3 separate regions of the Homo sapiens genome follow, and regions 2 and 3 are each linked to region 1. Evidence: fine-mapped expression QTL. A gene starts in region 1. Each other region holds a variant in brackets. All regions are shown on one strand. Distances are from middle to middle.

Evidence for each region. PIP is the estimated chance that this variant, and not a neighbour inherited with it, causes the effect. A credible set is the group of variants that fine-mapping cannot tell apart.
Region 2: its variant is the best candidate, but not a certain one, in a credible set for the expression of CCDC171 in tibial nerve (GTEx, PIP 0.52).
Region 3: its variant is the best candidate, but not a certain one, in a credible set for the expression of CCDC171 in monocytes (TOPMed, PIP 0.77).

What each region holds. Positions count from the first base shown.
Region 1 is chr9:15,551,785-15,554,637 of GRCh38, reverse strand. It overlaps CCDC171 (coiled-coil domain containing 171), which reads right to left and starts at 1,595. Exons shown (of 26, transcript NM_173550.4): 1 at 1,336-1,595. RefSeq lists enhancers at 1,288-1,457, 1,353-1,998 and silencers at 1,738-1,827, 1,838-1,897.
Region 2 is chr9:15,883,569-15,886,068 of GRCh38, reverse strand. The region is part of intron 24 of CCDC171 (coiled-coil domain containing 171); the gene reads right to left. Among named protein-coding and RNA genes, the nearest start is that of CCDC171, 330 kb to the right of the region's middle. The variant T/C (reference allele first, on the strand shown) is at 1,026.
Region 3 is chr9:15,511,955-15,514,726 of GRCh38, reverse strand. No RefSeq gene overlaps it. Among named protein-coding and RNA genes, the nearest start is that of PSIP1, 2.4 kb to the right of the region's middle. RefSeq lists enhancers at 1,467-2,085, 2,738-2,772. The variant C/T (reference allele first, on the strand shown) is at 1,699.

The DNA of each region.
Region 1 (2,853 bases):
ACCAAGGGACTGAGACAACCAAAACGTTTTAGAATCAAATGAGACTTTAGAGACTAAGTCCTTCCTCCTTATCTGACAGATAAAGAACCTAACGCCTAGGAAGGTTAGGTGGTTTGCCTGTGGGGACGCAGCTCATAAATGGCTGAGCCCCAAGACTAACACAGAAAGCTACAAACTAAGACTATGCCCTTCATCTTTCCTCTTAGCAGGTTGCACTGCCTTTGTTTCCTCTGCATTTTATGAAAAACCATGTTCATCTTCTGCTCTACCACTGTTTTGTTGAGAGTAGGAACTAACAGTTAAATAAAATAAGTGACATGCCGGGCGCAGTGGCTCACGCCTGTAATCCCAGCACTTTGGGAGGCCGAGGCGGGCGGATCACGATGTCAGGAGATCGAGACCATCCTGGCTAACACAGTGAAACCCCGTCTCCACTAAAAATACAAAAAAATTAGCCGGGCGTGGCGGCGTGCGCCGGTTGTCCCGGCTGCTGGGGAGGCTGAGACAGGAGAATGGCGTGAACCCGGGAGGCGGAGCTTGCAGTGAGCCGAGATCGCGCCACTGCACTCCAGCCTGGGTGACAGAGCAAGACTCCATCTCAAAAAAAAAAAAAAGTGACAAAATCGTATGTTCTTTTCTCCAATATTATGAAAACCATAAAACATCGGTATGTCATGTATTCAAAAGAGCTGGACACCAACTCTAATAAACAAAATAAAGACGTATTTATCTCATTTACCTAAAATGTATACATGAAATATGTATTTTCTTAGGATCAATATCATAATGGAATAAAAAAATTCAAAAAGTCGGCTCCATTTCTGCAGAAAATTTACAGCTTCGGGAAAACGCACAGCTGACTCAGATTCTAAGTCTCTCAGAGTCCTGGAGGGTAGGTAGAAGCTGCAGGTGACAGTCTAGCACAACTCATTCCCGTTTATCAAACATCTGTAGAGTGTCTAGTGTGTGGCCGGCATTTAAAAAGGGGAGAGCGGGCTGAAAGACGTGGTCCCTATCCTCGAGGGGCTTACTGATTCTCGGGAACGAAAGCGCTCCGCAGCAGTAACCCTAAGAAGCTCCAAATCCCGGTCCTCTGCCTCCCCTCTGGTCCCCATCCGGCGCTCTGGTACAGCCTCAGCGATCTCTGGCTAGGATGCTCCACGGAGATCTTCCTCCAGGTGGGCGGGGAGACCCAGCCCAGGGAGCTGGAGGCGTGCCCCAAAGCCTACGCCAACAGCCCCAGGGCCGCCCCAAACTCACTCAGGGGCCCCTACAACCCTCTCAACACCTCCCTCCCAAGTCGTCCGCCTCGAAGCCCCCACACCGTGCGGTTACCTCAGGGGTCTCGCGTGATCCGTGCTGCACACCCAAGACCCCAGGGGCCGCTCCAAGTCTCACGGGTGAAAGGAGGCCCAGGCAGCCCACGGGAATAAGAGCAAAAACTGTTGGAACACGACGGACTCCAGGACCCGGGAGGAGGGGGACAAACAGCAAAGGGGTACAGAAGGGGAAGAGCCCCCGGGAGGTGAAGTTTACAACTGCCACTTCCGGAGCTGAAAACACTCCGCTTCTCTCGCAGACCTTCCCAGACTTTCACAGGTCAGCCCAACTCAGGCCCGGCCCCACTTTTTCCTCCCGCCTCCCGCAGCCCTCAGCTTGCAGCTCCTGGATACGTACTCCGAGAACGCTGGCTCGGATTGGAAGAGCCCGCCCGCCAAGCAGCGCGCCTTCGCTGAGGGACGAACGGGCGCATGCGCCGTTGCTGGGGAGCGGCGGGCTCGCGACCGCACGCGCTCTCGCTCCAGGAGCTCCGCGTCCCCGCGCGGGGGTGCGCCCTGCCCACGCGCTGCTGTGGCTTTTCAGCGTGAGGTGTCCGCGTTCCTGTCTCAGTCGCCAGAGCCGAGTGGAAATGCAGATTTCCAGCTTCTAACCCCTTTTCCCTGCCTGCTGAATAAAAACCTAAGAGGTCGGATCCCAGATCCTGCTTTTTGAAACTGGTTCTTCTGCCCATCTTTAGAGCCACAGCAACGGTGGGCTGGTCCCGGGGCCTGGGGAGAAATTCTCTGGGCTCGGGTTCTGCCCAACTGCCTGGTTTACCTCTGTCTGGACAGCTCTCTGCCTGCACAGGGCATCCTGTCCCCTCTTCCCGTCCCCATTGTATCCCAGCTGGGAGTGGTGAGCAGGGTCGGAAGAATGCATTGATGCTGCTTGCAGTGCGTTTCATTATCAACATTACGTAACCAGGCACATCGTGGAAAACGCCTCGGAGCCTTAGCATGTGTGTTCCCTATCTCTTTCCTCGCTTCTCTCACTTTTCTCTGACACACACACACACACACACACACACACACACACACACACACACACCGTCCTCTTATTGATAATTTATACTTTGGTTCCTCCCGGTGGCTGCTTCACAATCTGCTGCCGCCTAAGGGAGACTGGAAAACCAACTCCTCTTTTGTTCCTTAACTTTTGAAAGCCTATTCTTCCAGAGAACAATGCAAATTGACAGGATTTGGTCAAAGATTTTTATCTTCACCACCACCACCTCCTCTGCACAAAAAGGTGTTTAATGCAAAACGAGCCTTCTATACTAAACTGGGTCCTTGTTGATTGTAATCAACCTGAAACCAGGTGTAGGGGCCGTCTTTTCTCTCTCCCATGGGAGAGCCAACGGTCATAAATGCAAACACAAATTGAGATTAAAACCTCCTTGATTCTTGTAGCACTGAAACCTTAATTGGTTTGATTTTAGTCATTTACATCTAAAACGGAGGCCTGTCCCTGATTCTTTTTACTAGAGCCATAAAGAGGACAATTGCTCCAGAGGAAATAAAGGGAAAAAATAGC
Region 2 (2,500 bases), 330 kb before region 1:
ATATCCTAAATAAAATATTTTTAAAACTGTGATTTTGATAATTCCAAGTTTAAATAAGAGGGAAAAGAATTAGGATCTCTGTTGGAATAACTTTTAGTTCTCTTCTTCAATTCAAATACATGTATATAATGAAAACATATATTTGAGTATTTGAGAGTAATAACAGTCTGTTTAACAAATGTAAGGCATCTGTGGAATTATTACAAGAAATTATCATTGTACTTAGCTTTAGACTGATTTACTGCATCTTCCTTAATCCTTAAGTTGCATATTCATTGCTGTATTTTCTTCTAACTGCTGTCACTTAAGTTGTCATGCAGAATAGGGCAAATCGGGGTCAGTTTATATAAGCGGCATCAATTTGAAGAACTTCATCAGTCTTCATTTCAAGGCATTATGCAAAGAAAACTGACATTAAGAGAGCCTTAACTGACAGCAAATGAAATCAATCAGCAAATCACTAAGCCATAATAAACTCACTCATTTGTAGATAACCCTTCCTTTTCCAGGTCTTCACCTAGGCAGTCCATCAAACACTGTTTTTTGTCCAAGTAGCTAAAATGAATAGCAATTCTGGTTATAGCACTTGAAAGTTCAACTGCTCACAGGCTTCGTTCTCTCAATAATAAGTATTAAAAGATATAATAGTTCTAGTTATATTTAAAAAGTGGCCTTAAAATGAACAAAAAGATAAAGCATCAAGTTTAGAATTTAGTTTTTGCCTCTTAACATTAATGACAAAGAAATTATGTTCACATCATGTCAGCAGCTTTTCTACTTAGGGCCACCTAGAACTCAGAGTTGTAACAAAAAACAAAATTCTGTACTGTACTTTGATACGTTTTGTCATTTTTGTTTTTTACTAATTGCATCTCAAACATTTCACATAAAAGCAAATACTGTCACCACTTGAGTTGGAATTTGAAATCATCCCAAAATTAAATGATGAAAAGGTGACAAAATGTTTCAAAATATGGAAACAGTAGTAATGTTTGCATTACTTTATATGATTATTTAAATAGTAG[T/C]ATATGGCATGAATTTACCACCTGGGTCTTGGCAATGGCTGTATACTTAACTGGAAGGAAACACTAAAGTTGTTGAACATATTATTTTTTTGAAGGCACATGTTGAACAGGTCATCAATCAAAAACCTCCAAAAGTCAAAACACTAAAACCTTTCTCAATATAGTTGGGTCACCGTTCCTGACCTTAGGCCTTTTATAGTTCAGTCCAACTTAGCTTTTACTAATATAGCATTTTTTAATGTGAAAATCACCTTCACATGCACATTATCTCATCTGATCTCCCTACAGTCCTGTGAGCAAAAGCAAGACTGGCGTCACTGTCACCTTTTACAGATGAGGGAACAGTGGCTCTGTGCTGTTGAGTGACTTACCGAGGTGGTTAAATTACAGGGCCAGAACTTCAATCCAGGCATTCTGACTCTCCACACAAGCTTTTTCTAATACTACCTTGCTGACTCCTTCCCCAGAAAATGAAATTATTTCAACTTTTCCAAATACTATGCTGTTAAGAAAATAATTCCCATTCTAATCAACATAACTCAATGACATACAGTAAATTGCACAGACTTATGGTTGCCAATTTCCATATAATCTGATTTACTTTCTTGTCTTTTAAAGGGGTAAAAATATTAACCTGAAATTGAAAACTAAGCAATCTATATATACCTGACCAAGGGATGTTTATATGGCAAATATTTAAAGAAAAATTATTTCAAAAACATTTATTAGTGCGATTTAATTTTCTAAGTTCTTTCATACATGTTATAGGATCCTCATAATCACCCAAAGATGCACCAGACCAGGTAATATCACCTCCATTTTACTGATGAGGAAACTGACATGCTGGAAGAATTCAGGGTCAAGGGGTCACAGAAAATAGTGATTCTAGGATAGAACTCCAGTAGCACTGGAATTCTATCCAGTGCTACCACAAGAATTGTAATACATACTCATCCTTCACAAGAAAAGACAATGTTGTATTCCACATACACACAAAAAGAAAACAATTGTATAAAATAATGAGAATCCCTGCTACTGGTGTAATTTGTGTCTACAGGGGGAAGGATTTCAACTGCTTTATTGCCAGTCCTACTACTTTCTAGCAAAGTTGCATAACTGCTTCAACCTTCTGTAATACTGATTCTGCTATGATTTTATTTCCTTCCTAATTATTTTTTCCTATTAAGAAAAGGAATAATAAACAACAAAACTAGAAAAATGAATTTATAAATCTACCTTGTTTTTAAAGAAGTCCTACCAGATTTTCCTTAATCTCAGTTCAGATCAGTTATACCAGATCATTCCCGCAAGGTATATAATTCATACATACATTAAGCTGAATTAAGGAGTACAAAGTTATAAGATTCTTTAAAACTGTAGCAGAAGCTTTACACGGATGCAATTACTTGCCCTTAAATGTCATCTTGTCCTTTTTAAAAGGCAAAGAGAGATAAAAATCTCAACAAGAAAAAACA
Region 3 (2,772 bases), 40 kb after region 1:
GATTAATGCTCTTTATTTTCCCCCATATTCTTGCTAACTTCCCACTATTTCCCCATCATAAGGATTAACATACAACACGAGAAAACAGTTCAATACCTGTTCATACCAATAAATTGAAGGTGCATCACTAACACTGTGTATTAAGGTAGGAAATTATGCAAGAGATACGAAGGAAGAGATTGTTGCTAATTTTTTAGAATAAAGATCTCATTTAGAAAGATTTTCATTAAAATAGTTAAAATGAATGTATTTGTAGTGAATGAAAAATGTCACTGCTCTTAAAGGGTTAACCTTTAAGTACTGTACAAGAAAAATTCATAAAGTCAAAACAAAAACACTTCCATGTGTCATACTTACCTGTATTTTCATCCTAAAGGATTAATGAGTCTGTTGGGGTTTTTCACTTGCCCCTCCCTCTCATTCACTCAATAAATATTTTTGAAAAGGAATTTTTTTTTTGAGAGAGAGTCTCGCTCTGTCACCCTGGCTGGAGTGCAGTGGGGTGATCTTGGAACACTGCAACCTCCTCCTCCCAGGTTCAAGGGATTCTCCTGCCTCAGCCTCCTGAGAAGCTGGGATTAACAGGCGCACACCACCACACCCGGCTAATTTTTGTATTTTTAGTATAGACGGGGTTTCACCATGTTGGCCAGGCTGGTCTTGAACTCCTGACCTCGTGATCCACCTGCCCTGGCCTCCCAGAGTGCTGGGATTACGGGCATGAGCCACCGCGTCCGGCGCTTTTTTATTGAGTACCTGCACTGATGAATAAGATAGTGCCTACTTCTAAGCAGTTTACAGATTAGTAGGAAAGAGTGTAAATAAGAAACTATGTTACTCTAAGATTAGGTCACATCTTTTCCAGAGGTGATTTTTGGGTTGAGTTTTTTAGGACCAGAAGGAGTTAAACAGAATGGTCTCGTGCTGGGGACAAGCTGGGGAATGGCATGGTGTGGAGGGAGGTTGTTAGGAAATTTGAAGCTGGGAATACTTTCAAGCCCAAAGGTGGAAGGTGGAAGAGTAAGTACTGGGCTGCTTTTCCTTCCAGCATCTTTTCTAATTATAAGCCACTCCTCCTTCAGCCTTGCTGCCTCCCTGCCCCACCTAGAGGCGATGTGGGATCACAAAAATGGCATGGGCAAGTAGCCAGAGGGGCTAGAATGTTGCCTCAGCCCCTGGACTAGATGTGTGATCTTGGGCAAGCTAGCTGCTTACCTTCTGTGAGCTTATTTTCTCATCTGTGAAATGGGGATAGTGGCACTTGGGTTAAATGAGATAATGTAGGCCAAGTTCCTGCCTCAACTCATTTGGATTTTCCTGCCCCCTCCCCTTGCTTCAGTTGTTTTGGAAATTACACTCTTTCTCCTTATAACTTTCCCATTGCTCCTCTGATCTCCATTTTGGTATACTTTTTCAAGTATCCCCACTAAGAAGGCTGACTATGGGAGAGGGCTGCACCAAGCATAGCTGGAAAAGAGCACAGAAAAGCTCTCCCAAGTGGCTAGGATGTGCCCAGCTTTCCTTCCCCGTTCCCTGCCCTCCCCTCCCCTCCCCTCCCCCCCCCTTTCCTCGCAGATTCAGAACTGTTGCTCCCAGGGATCCTGGGCTTTTGTTCTCTGGAAGCTTAAACCACCACCTGTTTTGCCTTTATTGTTTAAAGGGTATCTCCTGTTGTTCACAAACTACCACAGGTTGAAG[C/T]GGACAAAACTTAAAGGCAGCAGGAGCTAAGTATGGTACTTCCTTTTTTTAAAACAACAAAAACAACAGAAAATACTAATAGTAAAACATCAATGCTTTTCCATTTTCCCTTTTTTATTTCTTTTCTGAGGTCCCCTCTAACACTAACTACCCCCTCTTTACCTGTTAATCCTACCATTAGTACTAATAAAAAGTTATCTTTAACGTTAATTATAACTTGTTATATATCTGTTTTTCTTAGTTTGAAGTTTTTACAGTCTGAGGTATCCTCTAAAGCAGTTTCTCAAACTTGAATATGCGTAAGAATCACCTAGGGATCCTGTTAAAACGCAGATTATGATTTAGAAGGCCTGGGGAAGGTCTGAGCTTTACCTGAGCTCCCAGGTAAAGCCCTTGCTGCTGGGCCTTGGACCACACTTGAAGTAGCAAGGCCTTACAGGGTTTAGAACAAATAAAGTGCATACACACAAAAAAATGATTGCTGGATGCTGCTTTGGTCTCTCTTACTCTGTATCTTGAGCTTTTCTTCAATACATCTTTTTCCACCTTTTCCTATGCATAATTTATAGCCAACACCTGACAATCATTCCTTTGTGTAATTACTTAGTTGTGCTCTTCCTTCCCTTTTCTTAGTCACCATTCTCACTGAGAAATGCGTCATTTCATGAGTACTCCAGTTACCCCCAGCCTCTTTCTACTAACATCTACCTTGAAACATCAAGAACTGGTTAAATAATCATTTTTACCCCCTTCTTGCTGAGCAACCTATAGTAGCTTCCTACTACACACATTAAATTCATATTCAGAATGAGAAGCTTCAAGACATTTCACCAACCCTTCCTTCTCCTCTGCCAATTTCTCTTTTTGCTCCACTTGGAACTCTCTGCATATTGCCCAGGTATACTTAGTTTCTCGAAACTCCTTACAGGACATTTTACTTTGGGACTGTCTTCTTTCATTCCTTTTTAAAGACATGCTGTATCGCTTTCAAAAAATTCTCAATTTTTACCAATTCAAAAAAAATTTCCTAATTCATTTCCAGTTGAGTCCCGTATTTAAAACAGTATTATCTAG